7 linked regions of the Homo sapiens genome follow. The protein of the gene in region 6 purifies or fractionates together with the protein of the main gene of each other region. This does not show direct contact. Each region holds a gene or a part of one and is shown on either strand. Other genes may lie near its edges.

Region 1 (3,500 bases), on a different chromosome or scaffold from region 6:
CCACGTTTTGTAGGTGAGCAAATAGATACAGAGACAGTAAATGACTTGTCAGGGCTGGATGCAGTGGCTCACGCCTATAATCCCACCACTGTGGGAGACTGAGTTGAGAGGATTGCTTGAGGCCACAATTAAGCAACATAGTAAAGCCCCATCTCTTTAAAAAAATAGAAAAATTAGCTGGGCATGGTGGCATGTGGCATATAGTTCTAACTACTTGGGAGGCTGAGGTGGGAGGATTGCTTGAACCCAGGAGTTTGAGGGTACAGTGAGCTATGATTATGCCACTGCTCTCCAGCCTGGGCAGCAGAGAGAAACCCTGTTTCTTAAAAAGGGGAAAAAAAAGACATCAAAATTGATTCAAAATAAGGAGTTGGTAGGGAGCTGAGTGGGGAGGGAAATAATGTGTAATTGGTTGTGAGTTAATAATTGTTGAAGCCTGGTATGGGTACATCGGAGCATTGTATGCTTCTCCTTTCTATCCATTTGAAATTTTCCATAATAAAAAATTAAGATAAAAAAGCTACATCGAAGGCCACAGTTGGTTGCAGATGAGATTTCGCGCCAAAGGTCCTTGCAGGATGTCAGAGACACCCAGGTGCTCGGGCAGATTTTGACCAGCTCTCTCTTGCTGACCTCCCCAGGCATCCTGATGCTGGATATGGCCAGGCATTACTGCGTTCTGGTCTCAAGGCCATGGTGAGGAAATAATGAAATCCTTAGAGACCAGGGCCAGGTAGAAATCTTGGTTAAGTTCCTACTTTAGTCCTATAGGGAGGCCTTGAGCAAGCAGAGATCTCAGGTTTCTGAAGGGAAAATACTCCAAACCTAAGAGGGTTTTGTTTCATGTGTGTTCAAGATACCCCAAGGATATGGGGTCAGTGGTCCTGCGGCTGCTGCTGGGAGCCTACGATTTGCTGCTGCTGGGAGCTTTCTCAGGGGACATGGGCCCTCCTCTCCCAACCTGCAGTCACCAGAGGTCTCATTCCATCCCTGGTTTTTTCATTACTCCTGAGTGCTGGGAGAATTTTAGAAATGAAGAAAAATTAGCTCAAATGAAAAGAGCTGGGTGTGGCCGGGTGTGGTGGCTCACGCCTGTAATCCCAGCATTTTGGGATGCCAAGGTGGGCGGATCACCTGAGGTCGGGAGTTCGAGACCAGCCTGACCAACATGGAGAAACCCTGTCTCTACTAAAAATACAAAATTAGCTGGGTGAGGTGGCACATGCCTGTAATCCCAGCTACTTGGGAGGCTGAGGTGGGGGAATCGCTTGAACCCGAGAGGCAGAGATTGCGGTGAGCCAAGATTGTGCCATTGCACTCCAGCCTGGGCAATAAGAGTGAAACTCTGTCTAAAAAAAAAAAAAAAAAAAAGAGCTGGGCGTGGTGGTGTGCATCTGTAGTCTCAGCTACTTGGGAGGCTGAGGTGGGAGGATCGCTTAAGCCTGGGAGGTAGAGGCTGCAGTGAGCTGAGATTGTGCCCCCGCTCTCCAGCCTGGGTGACAGGGTGAGACTCTGTCTCAAATAAGTAAATAAATAAATAAAAATTAAATTTTTTTAAAAGAAGACTTCTTATCTCCCAAGGTAATGAAGAAGAAAATGGGATGTTGCTTGTCAGATGCCTCCTTGGCAGTGACTAGCAAATAATGGTGGCTGCCACTCTTATTGCTGTCATTCAGTGTTAGGATAATGCTGATGGGCAGGAGCTAGCAAGAGTACTAGCTCCTCTCTTGCCTGGGGCTTGTTATTCATTTGGCTTTCCTGAGGGCCAGCTCTGAATTGGTTTAGGTTTGATCTGGTTTATTATAAGGTAGGCCTACCTGTTCAGAACTTGAAACTTGGCCCTGGTGTTACTCAAAAAAACAGGAAAACTGACATTGGCCCAAAGCACAATTTATTCCCTGAGTGTACCAGCCTAATGAGTATTTCCTGGGCCTCTCCCTCCCTGTTTCCTTGGACAGTAGCCTATTCCAGGTGTCAATTCCTCATTAAAAATGGTGCCTGCTGTCATCACAAGCTCTCAAGAGAATGGACCACATGTGCTATTTATGTGTGCCTTACACCTGACCAGTCGGCACAAATTTCTGGGCTGGTTCATCCCTGTTTGTGAAGCATCTGTGCATTCAGTCGTTGTTCGGTGCTGGAGCCCAAGATGCTCTGGGCTGAAAGGTACCTCCTGTTTTGGCAGATTCCAAGCTACTCCCTCTTTCTCCTTCCCCATGTGCAGGCCAGGCTACCAACGTCTTTGTGAACATGGAGGAGGACTTCATGAAGCCAGTCATTAGCATTGTGGACGAGTTGCTGGAGGCAGGGATCAACGTGACGGTGTATAATGGACAGCTGGATCTCATCGTAGATACCATGGGTAGGAATTGACTCTGAGAGGCACCTAGAGGCAGTTTTATGGGTTCAACTGGAAGGGAACTGGCCTTGGACATGTCAGTCTTGCGGTGGGTGATGTTGAAATGCCAGGTGGAAGGCCATTTCCCATTACATCCGTCTACCCCGACCTTGATTATTCAAAGGGTGGGGAGCTGCACGTGGCTGTGACCCCTCAGAAGCCTGAGCCTACCTGGGTTTGGGGGCCCTTAGGTATGATTAAAGAAAAGAACACCACCTGTCTCTACCACAAAACTTAGACATTTTCCTGGTTATTGGGCAAATGCGCTGTTTAATTAAGGGAGAGCCTCATTTTTGTGCGACATCACAGTCGATGTTGACCACTGCAGAGTGAATTAAAACTAAACCCTAATGACTGTAACCCTGAAGACCCAGGGGAAATGGTCTTTGTGGAATCCTGACTCCTGCCCTATCACCTACCACCTGTTTAATTTGCTCACTTCCAAATTAAATAGGGCCTGGTGGAGGCTCAGAGACAGGTTCTCTGAACTGGCAGGGTAATTGAGGCACAAGGTCTGACGGATGTGACACGCCTCGTGAACCAGAAGGATTGAATATTTTTGTGATGGGTAAACAAGAGACACCAAGGACAATTTGGAAAGCTGCTGCATTTCTCGATGAACATCCCAGGTGATCCTTATCACTATCTCGTTCACGACATCTCTCAGTCCTCCTCACAGGCCTGTCTGCCTCCAGAGGTCCCCAGTTCCCTTCCTAAAGAGCAGATGGCGGTGAGAGATGCAGAGGCAAAATCAGTCAGGCTTTGCAGCTGTTAGGTTTCTCCCAGCAGCCTAGGTTTCACTGGGAGTCAGAAATGCAGATGCTCAGGCCCTACCCTGATCTTCTGAATCAGAATTTGCATTTTAACAAGATCCTGAGTGAGTTTCATGCATATTGCAGTTTGGGAAGCACCAACTTTTAGGACCTAGACTTTTTTCCTATTCTATCCAGCTGTTAATGCCAGGCCTTTCTCTTTGTCCTTCTCACCAGGTCAGGAGGCCTGGGTGCGGAAACTGAAGTGGCCAGAACTGCCTAAATTCAGTCAGCTGAAGTGGAAGGCCCTGTACAGTGACCCTAAATCTTTGGAAACATCTGCTTTTGTC
Region 2 (3,500 bases), on a different chromosome or scaffold from region 6:
ATATTGTCCCTTTAAAAAAAATTATCCCACAGGGAGAAAAACATTTAGGGAATTGGCACATTTCCAAGTCTCTTCAATTCGTTGCCTAGGTTTCTTTCAAAAATAGGCATTATTGAAGACTTGAGATGCAAGTCTTAGTAAATACATCAAGCACATTAATTTTTCTCCCTTGGGCTAATTCAGCATAAGTATCTTAAAAGTATGTTAGAAAGTACTGACTTTAACTTGCTCTGACTGAATGCTTTCTGGATGGAACCCTGTATACCACTTTTATCTGATTTGGAGATGAGACACTATGAAATGTGACTCCACAAGCTTTCTGCTGCTTGCTGTGTCTTGATAACATTAATGCTATGTTTAACAGAACAATTGCTGAAATGACCTAAAGGGCCTGGCAAGAGGAAGCCATCCTCCCAGCCCTGTGCGCATGCGAGCTTTAGTGTAAGGCTATTCTGGTGCTATTCAGTATTATTTCACGTGGCTTTTTCTTTATCCTTCTACCAAGTATTGGTTTTACCAGGGGATAGAAATTGTAATCCCCTAAACATCTCTGCTACATTAAATGGACTTTTGTATGTCTCCTTTGAACACTGATTTTTTTTTTTTAAATTGTCAAACTTGGTAAAAAGCACCAGCATGGCCAAGTTTCTCTAGGGACTTCATTTCATTTTCAGGTTTTCAATCCAGCTATAAGGAATATGTAATGGACTTATATACAGCACACAGCAGGCAGCAAGGCTGACTGACATGTCATAGTTTTCATAGTAGTCACAAATACTATGATGGGTTTCATGGTCTTGGTTGTGAAATAGATATCTGAAACACCGTGAGCTTAGAATAAAAAGTAGTAGTGAGATTTTCCACTTTCTGCCTGTATACCTTTGAGCTCTTAAATATTTAAAAAAAAAAAAAAAAAGTTTCCCTGTGATACAACTAATTAGCTACTAAAAGTAGAGTCTCAGATTGTTAATTTGAAAATAGATAACTTTTTTTGGATTGCTGTAATAACAGGTAGAAGAGAGTATTTTGACCTCATGTTAAAAGGCTCTGTATAGCTTCGGGCGCGGTTGCTCACCCCTGTAATCCCAGCGCTCTTGGTGGCTGAGGTGGGTGGATCACTTGAGATCAGGAGTTCGAGACCAGCCTGGTGAAAACCAGCATGAGACCAGCATGGTGAAACCCTATCTCTACTAAAAAAATACAAAAATTAGCCAGGCGTGGTGGCGCATGCCTGTAATCCCAGCTACTTGAGAGGCTGAGGCAGGAGAATTGCTTGAACTCAGGAGGCAGAGGTTGCAGTGAGCTGAGATCACACCATTGCACTCCAGCCTGGGCGATAGAGGGAGACTCCATCTCAAAATAAATAAATAAATAAAGGAAATACTGACCGTGCGCAGCGGCTCAAACCTGTAGTCCCAGCACTTAGGGAGGCCTAGGCGGGCAGACCACAAGGTCAGGAGTTTGAGACCAGCCTGGCCAATATGGTGAAACCCCATTTCTACTAAAAATACAAAAATTAGCTGGGCGTGGTGGCATGTGCTTGTAGTCCCAGCTGCTTGGGAGGCTGAGGCAGAAGAATCACTTGAACCCAGGAGGTGGAGGTTGCAGTGAGCCGAGATTGTGTCACTGCACTCCAGCCTGGGTGACAGAGCGAGACTTCATCTTGTGGGGCTGGGGGGAGGCTCTGTATAGCTCCTGTACATGGGAGACATCTACCCTTAGGCTCAAGAGACCTCAATATTGGTTGCTGGATGACAACATTTGCCTTCCAGGTTTCTGCTCAGGTTCTTATAATTCATTCTTATAGGGATTTAAACTTAAGTTTCTAAGGCCCTTAGGAATTTTGAACCTGAAATCTGGATTATTGAGCTTGAAATGTATTACAGAAAACATTTGATATTCAGTTTTTAATTTAAGAATTATTAAAAGTTAAATTCTTAATGATACACAGTATTGTTTCTTTCTCTTCTCAGGGTTTATCTCTGCACTGAGCATTTATGGTGGTAGCTTTCCAAAATTATATAGATACCTCTTACACAATCTCAAGCTCTTACAGCAAGCTTGTCCAGCCTGTGGCTCAACACAAGTTTGTAAACTTTCTTAAAACATTGTGAGTTTTTTTATTTTTTATTTTTTTTAAGCTCATCAACTATCATTAGTGTATTTTATGTGTGGCCCAAGACAGTTCTTCCAGTGTGGCCCAGGGAAGCCAAAAGATTGGACACCCCTTGTAACATCTTAGAAGTTTTAAATAATTATCTTCATATCCACATAGCTTTACAAAAGCTCACGACAGGGAGAGTATTTTCTTGGTTCTGTAGTAATTTCAGGGGGTTTACTGATTGGAACCCTTCCTTTTCCTCCTCTCTCCAGTCCAGCTGGCATTCAGTCCTTTAAACAATGTGGCTATGCAGTACTTTTGATTACTAATGACTTCTATTATCTTCTTCCCCATTGTGTACAGATGGGAGAATCCTCAGCACAAGTGTCTACTACTATTGGATGGACAGCGGCAGATGTTCACAGCGCGTCATGATTAATTAGTTTAAATTGCAAGGTTCTATCTGTGAGGTAGCTCAGGTAGATTTAAGGGCGGTAGACATGAACTGAAGTCACGTTTGCGCAGCGACTGAGGCATTAACCATGTTTTCATTTACACAGCTCTTCGTACATGCAGCTTTTTATTGTAATAGTTGGAAGTGCTAGTTATGTTGTAGTCTCAAAGTAGGGGGTAGGGGAAATTGGCTGATCTTAAAGTTTGAGAGGTATAGTTTTTTTCCTGCAGTGTAAATTACACTGAGTTACGGAATGGGACAGGTTCTCGTATAGTCTAAATTTTGACCCTGTTTCATATTTATTTTACAAATACTACATTTTATGTTTTTTAAAAGTACCCCTACCCTTGAAAAATGACAAACCAGATACAAACTCTTAATGGGCCTGAATTGTTAACAAAAAATTGGTTTGCTTTGGGACTGTCTGACTAGCACACTATATTTGTACTGATGAGACTGTTAACTTGAACAGGAGGTAGAATGCTGTCTTCCAATGGAAAAGAACTATATTGCGCTGCTTTATCTTGTCAGAAGACTAGGCAAGTGATTTTGATTTGGCCTCCAAACATTTGCCTTTATGTCTTACTGTTAGCTAGCGTTATTGCCTATTAAGTTAGTTAACTGGTGACCTTAAATAGAGACTTCTGTATTCCATGTGTATGTTCAGTGTATTGCAAAGATTATTATAATGGCTGGTCAGAGGAACCAGATACTGTCATACTTTTAAGAAAAGTATATTTAGCTCTGGGCAAAATAACATCAATTGGCTCTCCTTAGTTCTCAGAATCTGTCAGACTGGTATTATTAGCCAAGTCTGATTTTGAATTGTTTTTGTCCAAAAAAATTTTTCTCATTATGTTTCATTTTGTCAACTTAATTTCTTGTATTTTATTCTACTGACCTTAGTTTTCTGACAAGATTAATCCTTCTCCCCCGCCCTTTTCC
Region 3 (3,500 bases), on a different chromosome or scaffold from region 6:
TGCCTACTGTGCAAGCCGCCCAGACTGTGGCACTTTTATTTTTTAATTTTTTGAGATAGAATCTCCCTCGGTCACTCAGGCTGGAGTGCAATGACGCGATCTCGGCTCACTGCAACCTCCACCTCCCAGGTTCAAGCGATTCTCCTGCCTCAGGCTCCCGACTAGCCGGGATTACAGGTACCCACCACCACGCCCGGCTAATTTTTTGTATTTTTAGTAGAGGCGGAGTTTCACCATATTAGCCAGGCTGGTCTTGAACTCCTGACCTCAGGTGATCCACCCGCCTTGGCCTCCGAAAGTGCTGGGATTACAGGCATGAGCCACCGTGCCCGGCCTGTCTGTGGCACTTTTAAAATAACAACCCAAACTGACTAAGACAGCCCCCAAACACCTGAAAACAGTGGTTCTAGAGGGCGTGGGTGGTGTGAAGGGGCTGGGGCCGGGAACTCATTGTGGGGGGCACCATGGCTGTGGGTGGAAGGTTTCCCACCTTGGGGGCTGGTGAGCTGTGCTGATGGCCCCATGGATGCTGCCTGGTAGCAGGACAGGACTTGGAGAGAAGGCCCCCTCCACGTCTCCTAATGCAGTCGGCTCCCTGTGCAGCCTGCTCTCCCCCTGCCCTCCCCCACTGGGCCCCGCAGAAGGCCACATCGGCACTGCCGCACTGCCCCACAGATGTCACCCCAGCTCCATCCTCAGCCCTCCTGTCCACACAGCCACTTTCCCCACCGCTGCTGCCAGAGGCACCAACTCCCACCCACACCACAGCCTGAGCTCCCCAGGGGGCTTGACCACCAAAGAAACACGCATGGTTTTGTCTACAGCCATGGAAGGGGAAAGCGGGGAGCATGCGTCCAAGACATTTTACAGTTCTAGGCGGTTCCAGTGCTGCCAGCCAGACCTGTTTCATGAGTACCACAGAACCTGTACAGCTCAGTTTGGGTAACCCTGCCTGGAGGGAGCTGCGCTGGTGCACCTGCGCCTAAACCACTGGGCTTGTCACCAGCCAAGGGCCTCCTGTGGACCCGGGCTGCCACCTGCTCTCACAGCACACCTTCCCCACCAGGCACCCCATGACTCCTCTATTCTTCCTTTCACTTATGTCTGAGGGTGGCAGGGACATGGGCAAGGAGAGGTGTCAAACTCGCCGCTCAGGCACACGGGCTACGCAGCTGCTGGCCAAGAGCTCAGCAGCCTAAGTGGAGGGAGGCAAGCTGGGCCATGGAAGCACCAAGGCTGCTGGCAATGGTGAGGGCTCTTTGGAGTTCCCCCAGCACTCTCATCTGCCAGCTATGCCACCCTCCTGACACTCGCCTGCCAGCCACACCACCCTCCTAACACTCACCCTCCAGCCACGCCACCCTAACACACCTTCCAGCCACGCCACCCTCCTAACACTCACCCTCCAGCCACGCCACCCTCCTAACACTCACCCTCCAGCCACACCACCCTCCTAACACCCTCCAGCCACGCTGCCCTAACACACTCACCCTCCAGCCATGCCACCCTAACACTCACCCTCCAGCCACGCCACCCTCCTACCAGCCCCATGCCTGGCCTGGCTAAACCCACTGTGGTTTCGGGTCTGCCCTCAGCTGCTGCTCCCTCAGTGCGAGTTTACGTGTCTGTGGGACTGATTGCTCCCTGTCGCTCCCCCGACTACAGATGGGCTCCTGGTAGCCAGTGACTGGTGTGCCTGCTCACTGCTCCCTCTCGGTACCCAGCACAGGCAGGCAGGTGAAATGAGCTGAGGTCTAACTGAGCATTAGGTGTCGGCCAGGTGCAAAAAAGGAGAAAGGGTGTTCCAAGCGTGCAAAGGCCCAGGAGCCTGAAAGAGCAGGACGTGTTTACGTACCCAGGTAGCTTAGCAAGGCTAAAAGGGAGTGGGCTGGGAAGGGTGGGAGGTTGGGCCTGGGGTGGGGCTGGCTCCACTTGGTCACACTGAGCCTGCTAACAAAGGAGAACCAAATTCCCCACAGCCTCCCGACCTCACAGCCTCAGAAGCAGGAGCATCTCGGGCCAAGGGTGGTGGGGCTTCCAGGCACTCCTGAGGTCTGCAGGGAGAGCCTGTGAAGGTCGGGAGTGCTGGGCAGGGGCCAGGAGCTCACCGGGCTACGTTCTTATGGACGCTGGAGGTGCAGTTTAAGGCCGCGTGAATCAGCAGCTGGTTGAAGACGTCTCTCTGAAATGTCAATCGGGCATGTGAGTCTCCTGTACCTCAGGATGGGGGAGGCGAGCCCCCGCCCACCGCGGGCTGCCTGCTCTCCAGGGAGACAGTGGTGTTGATGCCACACCCTCAACGACGAACTTACACGGCGGGAGTGTGAGAGACACGTTCACACCCACATTGTTGGCACCAACACCATGGGAGAAACTTGGGGGCTGCGGGGCGCCCAGACTCCCTGGCCCAGGCCCTAGGCACCCCAGCTGGCGGCCATCGGCTCACCTGGGCATTGCTCCCACCGAGCTGGACGATCCGGTAGCGGATGGGCAGGAGCAGCTCCAGGACGCGGTCAGGGTTCCCGTCCTCAGCCTCCACCAGGGCCTGGCACAGGGGCAGCCCCACGTCTCGGGCCAGGAGGTGCTGGCAGTTCTCCCCTGGGGATCTGCGAACCCAAGACGGTGCCCTCAGCTGCCTGCCCATCACAGAACATCCGGGAAGGGCAGAGCCATTTCTTCCTCAGCGAGGTGTCCCTGGTCCAGTGCCTGACACATGCCACACTGATGAGGTGAGGTGACAGGCGGGGCAGCCCATCGAGGGGACAGGACAGGGTACTGAGCTCAGAGCTGGGTTGGAGTTCGCCCACTTCCAGCTACCTGGTCCCCCACCTTCCAGCCTCAGTTTGCTCATCTGTAAGCAGGCATAACAGTGCCAATCTAACAGAACCGTCAGGATTGCTGATAATACAGGCAAAGGCCTGGCACTGCAAGCCAAGGCAATCATCACCCCCGGAAGGGAATGGGCAGGGCAGCCCAGGTCCTCCAGGTCAGCCCTCACCAGCTCTTGCCAGGCATCGCCCTGATTTAGATGGGGAAACTGAGGTTCAGAGCACAGAAGCACCTCGTCCAGGACCTCAGGGCCTGTAAGCAGCAGGTGTCTCTGGCTTCAGGGCTTCACTGTGTCCTCTCCACGGGAGGCAGCCCTGTGACCCTGCGGATCTCATACCCACCCTGGGGATGGAGGCAGCTCTGTGTCTTGGGGCAACCAGTTGTACAGCTGTGGGTGTACACACCTTGGGGGTCTGCACCAGGGGATGCACATCTATAGGGGTGCACACCTGGGAGCTGCCTCCATGGGCATCCCCCCTGCTGCACTCACAGGCGGGGCAGGCACTGAACAGGTCTCAGCATGGCCCTAGCACCCCCTCACCCTCTCGGCAGGGTGAGGACCCCCACCCCGAGAAGGCCCCTCTGCATACTCGCTGGCGTCCCGCAGGGTGGTCAGCAGCTCCTGTGTGGTCTGGGGGTCGTGTGCACCCAGGGATGCCATCAGGAAGTGT
Region 4 (3,500 bases), on a different chromosome or scaffold from region 6:
CCAGCCACCCGCTGGGGAGAGTGACCAGCGGTTCGGTCTCCCTGACAGTGTGACTCCTTTAGACGGGGTGGCCCCTGCCAGGCCTGCAGCGTCTCCAGGTTGCACAGAAGGGCTGGGGCAAGTAGAGATGGAACCCTACCCGCTGTTTGAAGTGGACCCTCTCCTCCAGGGTGAGTGTGTCCGCCTTGGCGATGACAGGGACGATGTTGACCACCTTGCTCAGGCGTTTCATAAACTCGATGTCCAGGGGCCTGAGGCTGAAGCAGAGGGATGTGCGTGAGGCTCATCTGGGGGAGCGGGGCAGTGGGGGGGCACCCACCCCCAAGCAGGTGTCGACACTCTCAGGTGCTGGCTCGGGGCTCACGGGGGTCCCTGCTGGCAAGGACAGGGCCCCGGGCCGAGTCGGCCACGCTGTGAGTGTGGGGCAGAGGAAGGACACGGGTGTGTCCCAGACACAGGTGACACCACTGCACAGGCCAGGCGGGCCAGGGCCAGCTCCAAGCACCCTCGTCCATGAGTTCTGGGGTCCCAACCACACCCCTACATGTCCACACAGAAGGGCTGTCGTTGGCTCAGCAGCCGTCTTGCTGTGGGGCTTTGGCTGGGAGGGGAGAGGCAAGAGAAATAGAAGCTAGCACCAGTGTGCGGTGCCCCTGCACCAGGCGGGCTGCTCCCCTGCACCAGGCGGGCTGCTCCCCTTGCCTGCTTGGCCCCAGTGAGCCTGGGGTCTGATGTGGGGAAAGCTGTGGGTGGCAGGGGCTGGCAGGGCCCTGGAACTGGGGCACCATCTTCCCCAGTTCTGGAGCCGAGCTTTTCCCACAGTGAGAATAAATCGGTCACACACATGGCTGGGGAGAAGCCCGCTCCGGGCAGAAGTTTAAGCAGAGATGGCCAAGGCCCGCCCCTGCCCCATGGGACTGGACGCCTTGGGCGGGACCAGGCAACATGCCTAGCTGGAGTCCCAGCCAAAGGGTCAGTGCTGGGGAGTGGCAGAAGTGCCACAGACCGCCCGCCCGCCCTCGGCTTGCCCAGCTGGCATCAGGAGAGGCTTCTGCCTCCTGCCATCAGCCTCAGCTGAGGCAAAGCTTGGAGCAGCTGGAACAGCTGCCACAGGACCGCAGGTGAGCCGTTCTGCCTGGGAGGGCAGATGTTCAGTTCAGGAGAGGCCCATGGACAGCGGGCTGGCCCCCTGCCCCTGACTCCTGCTGGCCCACAGAGGATGATGCCAGAGGGTGGGCTCGAAAACTCCGGCTTGGGTTTTCCCACAGACTCTGGGTGAGGCCCGCTGCCCACCAGCCAGGCTCCTTCCTGCACCTGGTGCCCACAGAGTATGGTTTCCCCAAACCCCTGGGCTTCCTCCGCCCAGGGAAGTACATCTGGGACAGCAGGTGCGAAGGACCTTCTCCACCCACCCATGCAGACAAGCCACCCACGGCTGCCTCCACCAGCCACTCCTGCTGGCCTCTGGTCCTCCTCCTCCCAGCCCTGGCTCAGGGTGAGCCACAGGTGTCTGGCAGGGGGTGCACAGGGAGCTGAGGACAGAGGGTCCGTGAGGCCATGAAGAGTCCACCTGCCAGGGTACATGCAGCCTCCCGCCCTTGCTGATCTCTAGGGGCGACGTCAGGTGCGGACAGAGCCGGCGGGAGGAAAGGGCTCTCACCAACACCAACAGCAGCCCCGTCCAGCCCTGGAAGGGGCCAGCACTGATCTCTGTGCTTCCCGTCTAAGAACGCACCAAACCCTCTAAGGGGTCCCATGAGGCAGGGCCCGGATGAGAAGGTCAGTCACCGCTACGGGTGCTTGGCTGGGGGCTCCCACTCCACCTGCCAGAGCCTGGCCTGAGAAGGCAGGACACAGACCACCAGGCTCCAGAACAGCCCAGGGCCTGCCTGACCCTCAGCTCCCCAAGACGCAGCTGAAGGATGGGGGCTGGGCAGGACACTTGCATAGGGGTCAGTGTGAGGCTTTGGAGGTGCAGACATGGCACACCCCCAACTTCATAGCTGGCGGCCATGGCCCCTGACTCAGCCCCTCTGCACCCAGCAGCAGGGCAGACAGCACCGTCTTGCAGTCCCAGGGGACAGAGGGAACCCAGGGCACCCGGCATGAGGACGCCGACACTGCAGGGACGTACGAGTGGCCGGTGGCGGGGATGAAGTAGAGGCAGCAGTGGACGCGGGTGTCCGGGATGCGCTTCTTGCGGTTGATGTTGACCTCCTCCTGCAGGTATTTCTCGTACTGGTCATTGATGAACTTCATGATGGGCTGCCAGCTGCGTGGGGGATGGGGACGAGTCAGCAGGCACATGAGATGCCCTCCCCAAGCAGGTCGTGCATTCCCAGGACTCAGAGCCCAACACCCCACCTTCCAATGAAATGCATGCCCTGGGAGGTCTGGCTTGCTGAGCGGAGATGCCACAGCCTTACCCTCGGCCTCCCAAACCAGCCTCCCCGGGCTGGCCTCAGGTGATGAGTTGGGGACAGCAAGATTCCCCAGGTAATTCTGCTTTGGTCCAGAATTTTCAGGCCCCTGAGACGTGCGGCTTTGGCAGCATGTCAGGTCCCAGGAGGTGGGCCCTGCACCCCCGCGGGCCGGGAAACCTCTAGGGCTGACTCTGGGTGGGGTCCAGGGAGCCCTGAAGCCCCCGCTAGTGCTCCTCCCCCTGGAGGGGCCTCACCAGTTCTCGTTGTTGATGTGGTCCCCGAACCCTGGTGTGTCAATCACTGTCAGCTTCATCCGGACGCCTTTCTCCTCAATATCTGCACAGAGCCACGGACGCAGAGTCAGAGGGGAGACGGAAGACCCTCACAGACACCCCACACCTGACTGACCCCGGGGCAACCCCAGGTAGGCAGCGATGACAACCAAGGAGACACCGGGAAATTAATGGCCTTCCTCAGCCAACTCCGGCACAGGCCGGTGACGGTTCCCCTGGGAGCCCCTTGCCTGTCAGACTTTTGGTGGAAAACTCAGTTGTCTGTGGGGAGCTCAGTGTGACGGGGCCCACAGGGGTCCGGGACACTGACCCATCACAGCCAGAGCCCCAACATGCTCAACATGCTGGGGATGGTGGGCACAGCGAGTCCCCGTCTTGGGGACCTGGGATTGCCTGACTCGGGCACCCTCACACCGCACCAGTGCTCCAGGAAGGCATGGGTATCCCACATCCCCAGCCCATCCCCAGCCACTGACCGTGTGTGATGGTCTTGACCCCCAACCCCTGTGCTCCAGGAAGGCAGGGGCGTCCTGCATCCCCAGCCCACTCCCGGCCACTGACTGTGTGTGATGGTCTTGACCCCCCACTCTGTGCTCCAGGAAGGCAGAGGAGTCCTGCACCCCCAGCCCGCCCCTGGCCACTGACTGTGTGTGATGGTCTTGACCCCCAACCCCTGTGCTCCAGGAAGGCAGGGGCGTCCTGCACCCCCAGCCCACTCCCGGCCACTGACCGTGCGTGATGGACTTGATCTCGATGGTCTTGGGGATGCGCTCCTCTGAGGTGG
Region 5 (3,500 bases), on a different chromosome or scaffold from region 6:
CCCCCAGCAGGTAAAATACTTTGCAACATTAGAAAAGTACCATCATCATTAAATATTTCATGCAACTTAAGAATAATCTAATAAAAAAAGTGTGATTGTAGAATAACTGAGATTATTCTGTACCTTACCTAGCACAAGACAGGACGATAATGGCAAAGCAAAAACCATTTCTTCCTTTCTTTTTTTTGAGACAGAGTCTCCCTCTGTCGCCAGGCTGGAGTGGAGTGGCGCCATCTCGACTCATTGCAACCTCTGCCTCCTGGGTTCAAGCAATTCCCCTGCCTCAGCCTCCCGAGTAGCTGGGATTACAGGGGCATGCCATCACACCCAGCTGATTTTTTGTATTTTTTAGTAGGGACGAGGTTTCACCATGTTAGCCAGGATGGTCTTGATCTCCTGACCTTGTGATCCACCCGCCTCAGCTTCCCAAAGTGCTGGGATTACAGGGCCAAAACTGTAATCTAAACCAAGCTCTAAAACTGGTCTAAACCCAGCTCTAAATATTCCCTAGAATAGTGAGAATGAAAAGTGCAAAACAAAAGATGAAAAGTACAAGGTTTTCTTTGTAAATCAATTGCCAGCAAGTCAGTATTGAAACTGCCAACCACTTTTGGAAGACATACATAGTGAGTGTCAAGTGTGCTGAGGAGAAAACACCTTCCCATTTATAGTTTTTATGAGAAAAAGTTTTAAAAAAAGTATATTTGACAAATGTTAAAAATATAAAGAGAAAAACATTTAAACAATAAAACCTAATGAAAGTAGTCTGAGTGAAAATAGAGTTTCAGTGAACAGAGTTTTATTTCATGAAGCTACTTTATAGAATCTGCTTCACATGCAGCATACTTAATGATTATTCACATTTCTTTGCTTTGCTTTTAGAGAAAGTATTTTTTTTTCCTAGCTTCATGCACCAAATCAGCCTTGTAGGAAAAATGAAACAAAACACAACAGAGTGAGGAGACATCAGGCTGAGTTAATAAAACACTGTTCATATGATACTTACGCAGTGGTAGTCTGCATGTCATGCCAGCTTTTGCTGAAGTTCTGTTTTAATTCATTCATCAGGTTCATGCCGAGTTTTTGTTTTATCTCAACTAGATGCCTTTCTTTCGCTGACAAAACTTGTCGTAGTGTTGTAATTTCGTCTTCTAGCTACAAGGCGGAGGGGAAATGGTGGGGGAAAATGTCAGACCAGCAAAAAAGGATACTTACAGAAGCTCTGGGTATTCCAAAGCAGCCTCTGACCCTCCTATTTATACAATCCCATGTGTAGGTTTGCCAAATACACCCCATACAGATGATAGTCTAATATCTCAAAGTAGAAACAGAATTTTTCATTTTAATGATTATAGAAGTAATTTATGCTGCTTGTTAAAAAAAAAAGTGAGATTGTACAGAAAAACATAAACAAGAAAATAAAAATCACCTGTATCCTGCTAGGAAATAGCCACTGCTTATTTTTTGGTTTCTAAACTTCCAAATGTTCTTTCTATAAGTTGTATATAGACATAATTTTTGAACAAAAATTGGTTTTCTACTGTACCCTTATTTTATATAACTTCTTCTCAAGTGCCACTTTATTTATTTATTTTAAAGAGACAGGGTCTCACTATGTTGACCAGGCTGGTCTCAAACTCTTGGCCTCAAGGGATTCTCCTGTCTTGGCCTCCCAAAGTGTTGGGATTACAGACGTGAGCCACCACGCCTGGTCTCAGTGTAGTTTATTTTTTGCCAACCACACACAGTTGCATAGGTGCAGGAATGGAATTGGCAGACAATGGGGTTTTGCCAAGCTAATGCCTTAAGAAAGGAAGGAACAAGGGATTAGAGGATGTATGTAAAAGAGTGATTTGTGTTGATTTTTCTTTTTAACAGTTTCATTGACCTGTAACTGTCATACAATAAGCTGCAGACATTTAAAGTGTATATGTATAATTTGTAAGTTTTAACATATGTATCTACCCGTGAAGCCATTATCACAATCAAGGAAGTGAACATATTCATCACCTTTTACTTGCTTCTTCTTCTTCCTCCCTCCCTCTTCTTTCCTTTCCCCCAATCCACTCTCACCAGACAGCCACTGACTGACTTTCTTTCCCTAGGGTTTAGTTTGCAGATATTTACTAGAATTTTATACAAATTGAATCATAGAGTATACACTCATTTTTGCTTGGCTTTGCAGATAGTTATTTTATATTCATCTATGTTGCTGCATTATCAATGGTTCTTCCCCTTTTTTTGCAGAGTAGTATTCTATTGAATGAATATGCCAAAGTGTGTTGTTTATTTGCCTGTTGAAGGGCATTTAGGTTAGGCTAATGCAAATAAAGCTGCTATGAACATTCATGTACAAGGCTTCGTATGGACATATTTCCTCTTTCCCCTGTGCTACAGAAAAGCAGATCTCTTCAGCACTATAAAATTGCTCTTGCAAATGCAATTTCTAACAAAAGAGCTCTGTAAAGTACTCAGATTTTGGAAAGTGCTGTTCTATCCTGTGAAAATAAATCTGAATAAATCACAAAGTCTTTGATTTTAATTAGTTGTCATACTCTATAACATATTGCTCTGGTATCAGTGCTTACATTTACATCTTTGTTTTCTGAAATATGGAAAACAAATTTTGTGACTTTTCCTTGTTAAGCCGGAAAAGAATCATTAGAACTACCTTAGTATCCCACATGCATGGAGGTAATAAAACTCTGTCACTTTAGTGGATTTCTTACTAAATTTTTTTTAAAAAGGAGCAACTGTGGCTCATTTACTGTAAAGTGTCACTCTACTTCGGACCACAAGCTGCATCACACCAACCCTGTCAGGCTGTCAGTCATCTTGCAAATGCGTTCCTTGGATCACCAGAGTCACAGCTCCTGGGAAAGCAGCTCAAGAAGGGCATCTGCCTTTGCAAAAGCAAAACATGCAATAAAACCCCCCAGTCTTTCACTAGCGCCAATAGTGAACAGACAGAAATGGTTTTGCGAACCTTTATATACACAAATAATCACGTAAGCAAAACAAGCAGAAATACTGAATCACAAGCATCTTAAATACCACAGTAAGAAGTAGCAATATCTTGGGGTTTTTAATATCAGCAAAATGTCCTGGCAATTTAACATTATCCATTTCTTTATGTTCACAGAACATTTTTTATATGTACATGGACATCTTTCTAAAATCTAAAGTGAATTACATATTCTACAAACATAGTATAATCAATAGAACCCTGTCTTTCCTTGATGAGCAAGAGTCTTCAGTGTGCATACATACACTGATTACTGTAAAAGGAGTATGTTTAGGGACCAGTAAAGAGAATAATGCTTTTAGTCTCTCCATTAAATGAGAATACACTGTTATTTTAAAATTAAGCCCTTCTATTCTTTTGTTATCATGTCATATTTCTCTTTTTCATCTTTGTCAATGTGTCCTCCTCCATTTAATCTGCTGCCCAATATTTCTCATGGTTGTATCTCTTGCTCTTTTACCACAGAAAATGCTTG
Region 6 (3,500 bases):
GTCATTTTAGGCAGCTTCAAGGGAGTTGAGTTCATTCAGCTTCAGTTACCTGAACTGAATTCAGTTGCCTGAATTGACGCTTTTGTGAAATGGAATCTTTCCAAGTCAAAGCTTGGATTGAAATTTCACTGACTGGTTTTTATGAGATCACTTAGGGTCTCAAATACTTTATGTAGAGGTGCATTGATCATATTTTACACTTATGTGTGACTTATGGGCAACTTTTAGCACCCTTATCCCTCTGGAGTTTTGGAATGCTATTTGTGAGGTTTATAACTTCATAAATATTTATTGAACATCTACTACCTGCCAGGTAGTAGTCTAGATGGTAGAGTATACAGTAAGGAACAAGCTATATAAGGTCCTTTCTCTGTTGGAGCTTACTTTCTTTGGGATATTAGACATTGAATTAGGCTATTTCAGATAAGATAGTACTTGTGAAAGATCTATAACAAATTCTTTTGGATGTGTCTAGTGTCCTTCCCTACTGCATGTCCAGATCTTTCTCATCTTCATTTGAAGGCTGGCTCAAATGGCAGCTTCTCCATCATATCCTTATCTGATCCTTCCAGCTGATATATTACTCCCCTCTTTGAAATCTCATGCCTCTCTATCAGCAACTTTCTTATGTCACCTTAACATTTTTTTCTATTTGTTTCATAGTTGTTAGTGCATATGTTAAGTCTCCCCATTAGACTATAAATTACTGAGGGCAGGCCGGGCACAGTGGCTCACGCCTGTAATCCTAGCACTTTGGGAGGCCAAGGCGGGTGGATTACTTGAGGTCAAGAGTTCAAGACCATCCTAGCCAACACAGTGAAACCCTGTCGCTACTAAAACTACAAAAAATTAGCTGGGCATGGTGGCGCACACCTATAACCCTAGCTACTTGGGAGGCAGGAGAATCCCTTGAACCCAACAGGGTGGAGCTTGCAGTGAGCTGAGATCCTGCCACTGCACTCCAGCCTGGGTGACATTGTAAGACTTTGTCTGAAAAAAAAAAAATTATTGAGGGAAGAGTAAACATCCTATTCATCTTGGTTTGGGATATTTCACATGCAGGCAGCAGGATGTTGTAGGAAAAAAACACACTGAACTTAGAACCAGAAGGATCAGATAAGGATATGATGGAGTACTGGCTTCTCTATTCACTGGCCGTGTGACTAGACAAGTCATTTAGCTTCACTGAAACTAAGTTTTCTATCTCTAAGCGTGTAGTAATCATCCTTCTATTCCTGAATAGTTGTCGGGAGGCTCAAACTGAGATAATGTATGTGACTATCCTTTGCAAATTCTAACTTTCTACACACAGTATCATAGTAAATATTGAGTATTTGAATGAGTAAGCATTTACTTTAGTGAACACCTTTTCCTGAGCAGTTCTCTTGCTTAATGAGGTCTTTTGATTTTGTAAATATGCTACTTTTTTATCTGATATTTTTGTATTGTTCCATTTTGCAGATGATATCTAATTTTATTAAATTATTCTGTTCCTGAGAATTGGCATCCTCTTCATCCACCTGGGGATGACCAGGAATTTTCTGTTTTTTTCTCTGTAGGTGCTATTTAATATTTAAATAACAAATGACATTTGATCTGTTTCAGCAGGTGGTCCATTATGGCTGACATGCAAAATCTGGTAGAAAGATTGGAGAGGGCAGTGGGCCGCCTGGAGGCAGTATCTCATACCTCTGACATGCACCGTGGGTATGCAGACAGTCCTTCAAAAGGTAAGCAGTCCACAGCCCAGCAGAATGCTTTCTTTGAGCGTCTTGGCCTGAAAATTTTCTATTATTCTCTCCTTTGGCGCTAACTTCCCAAAACTTAATCTAGAAAGTTTACCTTTTGTAATTTGTATTGCTGTGAACAGATAAGAGAGGAAATGACTTGTACAGGGAGGCCTGTGGTTAAGTTATTTTAACACAAGAACTTCCTGCTTGTGCAATATTTCCTGCTCTTTCTTTAGCAGAATGACTCCAATGTAAGTCAAATGACAAGTGATAATAAAATTCCTCTCTCCAAACAATTGGCAAATTGGACATTTTGCACATGCACCAGTTGGAACATAGAATGTTAGCACTAAAAAAAACCTTGGAGGATCATTTTGTTTATTTTCATTTTATAGATAAAGAAAATTAAGCTCAGAGAGGAAAAGGAATTTAGTCAGGGTCACACAACCAGTTAGTGGTGATACTGGACCTGGAACCCAGGTTTCCTTACTCCTGTTCTGTATCCTGTTGACTGTATTACCTTGCCTCCCCACTTTCATGTAGAAGCACGTTTTAAAGAAGCCTCCTTCTGATGCATGGCTGATTCTTTGTGGTGTGTTTGTCTTTAGCAGGAGCAGCTCCATATGTGCAGGCATTTGACTCGCTGCTTGCTGGTCCTGTGGCAGAGTACTTGAAGATCAGTAAAGAGATTGGGGGAGACGTGCAGAAACATGTAAGGATGTTTTGCCTTTTTCCCCTTCTTTTAAGGACTAACAGCTTTCTTCAGTCAGCCAAGGTCCTCATCCTTGGTTTAAGAGCTCCTTGAGAAGTTCCTCTTGGTTTGGGGCATTACACATGTTCTTTCTCTTTTGCCTGTACTGAGGAGTTCAGTCTAGCCACAGAAACGATTCCTCATTTTTTTCTAGGCCCCTTGCTTTTATCACGTATTTATACAGAAAGCTTGCTTGGTACATAAAATATGGTTCTGTTCATCTTTGTAGTGAAGAATATGCACCAGTTTGATCCCAACATATTACATAATCAAACCTACAGTGGCTTATTTAAAGGAGTCATTATCATGACTTAGCATTTATAAAACTATGCTTGATAGTTATTAGTTATGCTAATGTGGGTTATTTTCACACTTAACCCACAGCAAGAATATGAAGTAGGCAATGACAGGTGCCTTTCCTCCCACCTTCCTTTATGCCTCCTACGTCATCACCACCACCCCCCACCCCCACCCCACACTCACATATACATTCTACCTCTATTTTTGGGACCCAAAAACCTTCCTGCTAGCTCACCGAATTATAAACAGTAACCATGCTTGGGAACTTCTTCACCTAAACCTTTCTCGAAGACTGGTTGCTTGGCTTTTGGAAAATCTATTTTGAGCCTCTCAAATACCATCTGTTGCCAATGGTTTTAGCTCTAGAGAGTGGGACTGGGACTTTAATAAGGGTGTGGAGGCTTGCATTTTTACTTAATACAGTTCTGTAACATTTGAAAAAACTTTAAAACATTTATCATTTGTATTTTAAAAATGCAAATCCAGAAAAAATAGATTGCTTTCTTTGAATTTTTGTATTTTAATAGTGCTTACAGTCTCATGTTTCTTAAATTCTTTTGACTGCGAATGACCCTTAGAAAGAAAGAACATATTCGTAACTGAGATAAAAGTTTCACAAGATGATATTTATACTACTTCTGCTGTACTTTTTTTTTTTTTAACTTTTTATTTGGAAATAACTTGAAGTTGGTGCACTGCACTCATACTTTTGTTCCATT
Region 7 (3,500 bases), about 28 Mb from region 6:
AGGTGAAGGAGTCCTGGGCTAGGGGCAGGAACTCAGCTGGTGGGACAGGCAGCTTGGGAAGCAAAAGGCTACTTGACCCTTGATGCCGCAAACATCCCTGGGCCTGGCCTCATGTCTGTGGCTGGTGATGACATTGCTTTGCCGCAGGTCTTCCTGTCTTCCTGAGTGACCTCAGGCAAGTCACACCTCCTCCCCACAGGGGACTCAGTTTTCTTATCTTTACAAAAGGGAAGTGAACCGGATCCACTGATTGCTGATTTTGTGGATAAATGGGCCCTTTTGAGAATCTGATGAAAGCTACGGCTCTGCTCCCAGAGAAACGCAGAAAATGCCCTTTGCCTGTGGTTTCTGGGGGTTAAGAAGCACTGAGTTCAGATCCACGCAGGTCAGGAGCTATCTGTTTTCCTTTTTTTTTCTTCTTTTTTAAGATGGAGTCTTGCTCCATCGCCCAGGCTGGAATGCAGTGGCGAATTCTCGACTCACTGCAACCTCCGCCTCCCAGGTTCAAGTGATTCTCCTGCCTCAGCCTCCCAAGTAGCTGGGATTACAGGCGCACACCACCATGCCCGGCTAATTTTTGTATTTTTTTAGTAGAGATGGGGTTTCACCATGTTGGCCAGGCTGGTCTCGAACTCCTGACCTCAGGTGATCCACCTGCCTTGGCCTCCCAAAGTGCTGAGATTACAGACGTGAGCCATCGTGCCCAGCCCTATTTTAATTTTTAAAATAGAGACAGGGTCTCACTATGTTGCGCAGGCTTGTCTCAAACTCCTGGGCTCAAGTGATCCTCCCACCTTGGCCTCCCAAAGTGCTGGGATTACAGGTGTGCGCCAGCGTGCCCAGCTGAAATACCCATTTTCCTATGTGCAGACTAATAGGGTCAAACATGGGTATTGGGGGCCAGGCACTGTAATCCCAGCACTTTGGGAGGCCAAGGCGGGTGGATCACCAGAGGTCATGAGTTCAAGACCAGCCTGACCAACATGGTGAAACCCCGTCTCTACTAAAAATACAAAAATTAGCTGGGTGTGGTGGCATGTGCCTGTAATCCCAGCTACTCAGGAGGCTGAGGCAGGAAAATCACTTGAACCTGGGAGGCGGAGGTTGCAGTGAGCCGAGATCATGCCACTACACTCCACACTGGGCAATAGAATGAGACTCCATTTCTAAAAAACAAAAAACAAAAACACACACAAAAAACATGAGTATTGGAACCCTGCTGCAGGGGCTCCCTCCACTGGGACAAGATCTGTCCTGATCATGCCCAGGCCTCCCCTGCATGTGGCTCTGGCATTTTCTCAGTGCTGCTCTGCCTACTCAGAGAAGGCGCGTCCCAGACCCTTTCTCTTGGGGCTTCTCTGAGGTGCCTGGAGCTGGGATGTTCCAGGTCTTCGTTCTTCTCCCAGCCCCTGCTTCTGACTGTAAGTAACCACAACAAGTACAGGGGTTGCCGTGGATTCTGTGCTCATGATGGGCCAGGCTTGGTGCCCCACGCTTGTTCAACACAAATCCTCCCCCTCACCCCATGAAGAAGGGATTATTCCTATTTTATAGATGAGGAAACTGAGGCTTAGAGAGAAGTGACTTGCCCGAGGACATAATCTACTCACTGCACAGCTGGGATTTGAGCCCAGCTGGTTGGACCCTGAGCCTGACCTCTGGGTCTGATGCTGGGTGGGACTGTGCTTTCTGACCCCCAGATGAGGTCGTGCTCAAGTTTGAAATGGGCCATGTGAGAGCGAGGAACCTGGCCTATGACACCCTCCCGGTCCTGATCCATGGCAACGGGCCAACCAAGGTAGGGGGTCCCCAGCCCCTGGGGAGTGTGGGAGGGGGCCAGAGCCCTAATTTCATTCTCACTGTGACCCCACAGTGTCTCCCTGGGGCCAGGGCCACCTTCCTGGGGCCTGCTATGAACTCACTGCCTCTGTCCTCACATCTGAGCTCAGCGTGATGCCTTCTTTTCCTGCTGTGGTGGTCAGTGGTACTCTGTCTGTTCTTGCTGGTCACAGGACACGTAGGAGGCTGCCATCCCCTTCCAGGCCTAGGCTGGGCTACCAGAGCCATCTGCACTGTCACCCCAGGGCAGAGTCACTTATTCACTCAGTAAACCTTTATTTCATGTTTGCACCAGACAGTAAGACATAGTCATAAGCAGGACGGATGTCCTGCATTCATGGTGACAGAAGGGACTGGGTGCAGATGCGGCCAGGGACAGAATGGACCTCACTGGTCCCTGGGGAACTGGCTCATAGCTCATAGCATATTTGAGTGTGGTCCTTCACCGCTGGAATGAGGGAGAGGAAGGAGGATGTGATGTGTTTAAAATGCAAATTTGCTGATTTCACCCAGGATCTGTTCAGATGGAATCTCTGAGCGGGGTGGGACCCAGGAATCTGCATTTTACAAGCTCTCGGGAGAAGCACTAGAGTGCCAAGCCCTCCCCTGCCCTCTCTCAGAGCGGCTTGGTGATCTCCTGGGGATGGAGCATTATCTCCAAGACCCTCTTAGGGAGTGGGAGGGGGCTGGATGGTGCTGACCCACTGGGGGCCCAGGGAGATGTGAGTCAGGGCTATGGCAGGTGGGGCTGGCTGGCTTCTCTGTGACCCCACGTCTCCCCGACAGCTGCAGTTGAACTACCTGGGCAACTACATCCCGCGCTTCTGGACCTTCGAAACAGGCTGCACCGTGTGTGACGAAGGCTTGCGCAGCCTCAAGGGCATTGGGGTGAGGCTGCGCCCAGGCCTGTGCCTGAGGGACACGGGGGGCTCAGTCCCCTGAGATGGCGAGATGGGTGATTCTGGAATAGACTCCATTGTCTTTGGTGGAAAGTGAAGGGGTCACCTCCCTGCCTGGGGTTCTATCCCGGTTGCCACCCAAGTGCCTCCTCCTGGAAGCCCTCTCAGATTGCATGTCTCTAGCTTCCCCCGAGATGTCCAGGTTCTGGTTTCTTCTGCCTGGTCCTTCAGGCTCTCCTGCAGCCCCCTCCCCATCCCATGAACCTCATCCTCATTTATGACTCACCTCGAACACCACGCCAGCCACGATCTCCTGACAGCAGGCCCTCAACCGAGTCCTTGTTCCAGGCCTGGGCTCCTGCTGCTCTCTCCCCGGGGCACCCTCCTGCTGCTTCCCTGCCCCCCCGTACCCCCTGACTGGAGTTCCCCGGCCCGGGCACCTTTCTTGGGAAGTCTACATGCTTCTGATTCTGGCTCTGACTCCCTTGGGCCACCCTGGGGTGGAGTGGCAGTGCTGTGACTGGACACTGCTGGACTCTTGTGCCGCCCTCCCTGGTGCAGGATGAAGCTCTGCCCACGGTCCTGGTCGGCGTGTTCATCGAACAGCCCACGCCGTTTGTGTCCCTGTTCTTCCAGCGGCTCCTGCGGCTCCACTACCCCCAGAAACACATGCGACTTTTCATCCACAACCACGTGAGTAACAGGCGCTCTGTGGGGTCGTCATGTGGCTTAGATCCAGGGCCCAGCTTCACAAGGTAGCCC

What was found.
Region 1: the proteins of CAP1 (region 6) and SCPEP1 fractionate together in Homo sapiens (co-fractionation; one large-scale study listed by BioGRID). This does not show direct contact.
Region 2: the proteins of CAP1 (region 6) and OGA fractionate together in Homo sapiens (co-fractionation; one large-scale study listed by BioGRID). This does not show direct contact.
Region 3: the proteins of CAP1 (region 6) and TTC38 fractionate together in Homo sapiens (co-fractionation; one large-scale study listed by BioGRID). This does not show direct contact.
Region 4: the proteins of CAP1 (region 6) and SEPTIN9 fractionate together in Homo sapiens (co-fractionation; one large-scale study listed by BioGRID). This does not show direct contact.
Region 5: the proteins of CAP1 (region 6) and TPD52L1 fractionate together in Homo sapiens (co-fractionation; one large-scale study listed by BioGRID). This does not show direct contact.
Region 7: the proteins of CAP1 (region 6) and PLOD1 fractionate together in Homo sapiens (co-fractionation; one large-scale study listed by BioGRID). This does not show direct contact.

The regions. Positions count from the first base shown.
Region 1 is NC_000017.11:56,998,631-57,002,130, forward strand, and holds part of SCPEP1 (retinoid-inducible serine carboxypeptidase precursor), read left to right. Parts: intron 1-2,224; coding exon 2,225-2,362; intron 2,363-3,387; coding exon 3,388-3,500. UniProt on the Homo sapiens protein: May be involved in vascular wall and kidney homeostasis.
Region 2 is NC_000010.11:101,794,445-101,797,944, reverse strand, and holds part of OGA (protein O-GlcNAcase), read left to right. Parts: intron 1-1,973; coding exon of another isoform or gene 1,974-2,104; exon of another isoform or gene 2,105-2,464; coding exon of another isoform or gene 2,465-2,544; exon of another isoform or gene 2,545-3,500.
Region 3 is NC_000022.11:46,288,508-46,292,007, reverse strand, and holds part of TTC38 (tetratricopeptide repeat protein 38), read right to left. Parts: coding exon 3,420-3,500; intron 2,607-3,419; coding exon 2,447-2,606; intron 2,183-2,446; coding exon 2,109-2,182; intron 1-2,108.
Region 4 is NC_000017.11:77,487,499-77,490,998, reverse strand, and holds part of SEPTIN9 (septin-9), read right to left. Parts: coding exon 3,447-3,500; intron 2,760-3,446; coding exon 2,678-2,759; intron 2,273-2,677; coding exon 2,135-2,272; intron 258-2,134; coding exon 140-257; intron 1-139.
Region 5 is NC_000006.12:125,226,773-125,230,272, reverse strand, and holds part of TPD52L1 (tumor protein D53), read right to left. Parts: intron 1,156-3,500; coding exon 1,007-1,155; intron 1-1,006.
Region 6 is NC_000001.11:40,057,729-40,061,228, forward strand, and holds part of CAP1 (adenylyl cyclase-associated protein 1), read left to right. Parts: intron 1-1,605; exon of another isoform or gene 1,606-1,608; 5' UTR 1,609-1,618; coding exon 1,619-1,730; intron 1,731-2,338; coding exon 2,339-2,442; intron 2,443-3,500. UniProt on the Homo sapiens protein: Directly regulates filament dynamics and has been implicated in a number of complex developmental and morphological processes, including mRNA localization and the establishment of cell polarity.
Region 7 is NC_000001.11:11,955,217-11,958,716, forward strand, and holds part of PLOD1 (procollagen-lysine,2-oxoglutarate 5-dioxygenase 1 isoform 2 precursor), read left to right. Parts: intron 1-1,700; coding exon 1,701-1,798; intron 1,799-2,625; coding exon 2,626-2,727; intron 2,728-3,299; coding exon 3,300-3,431; intron 3,432-3,500. UniProt on the Homo sapiens protein: Part of a complex composed of PLOD1, P3H3 and P3H4 that catalyzes hydroxylation of lysine residues in collagen alpha chains and is required for normal assembly and cross-linkling of collagen fibrils.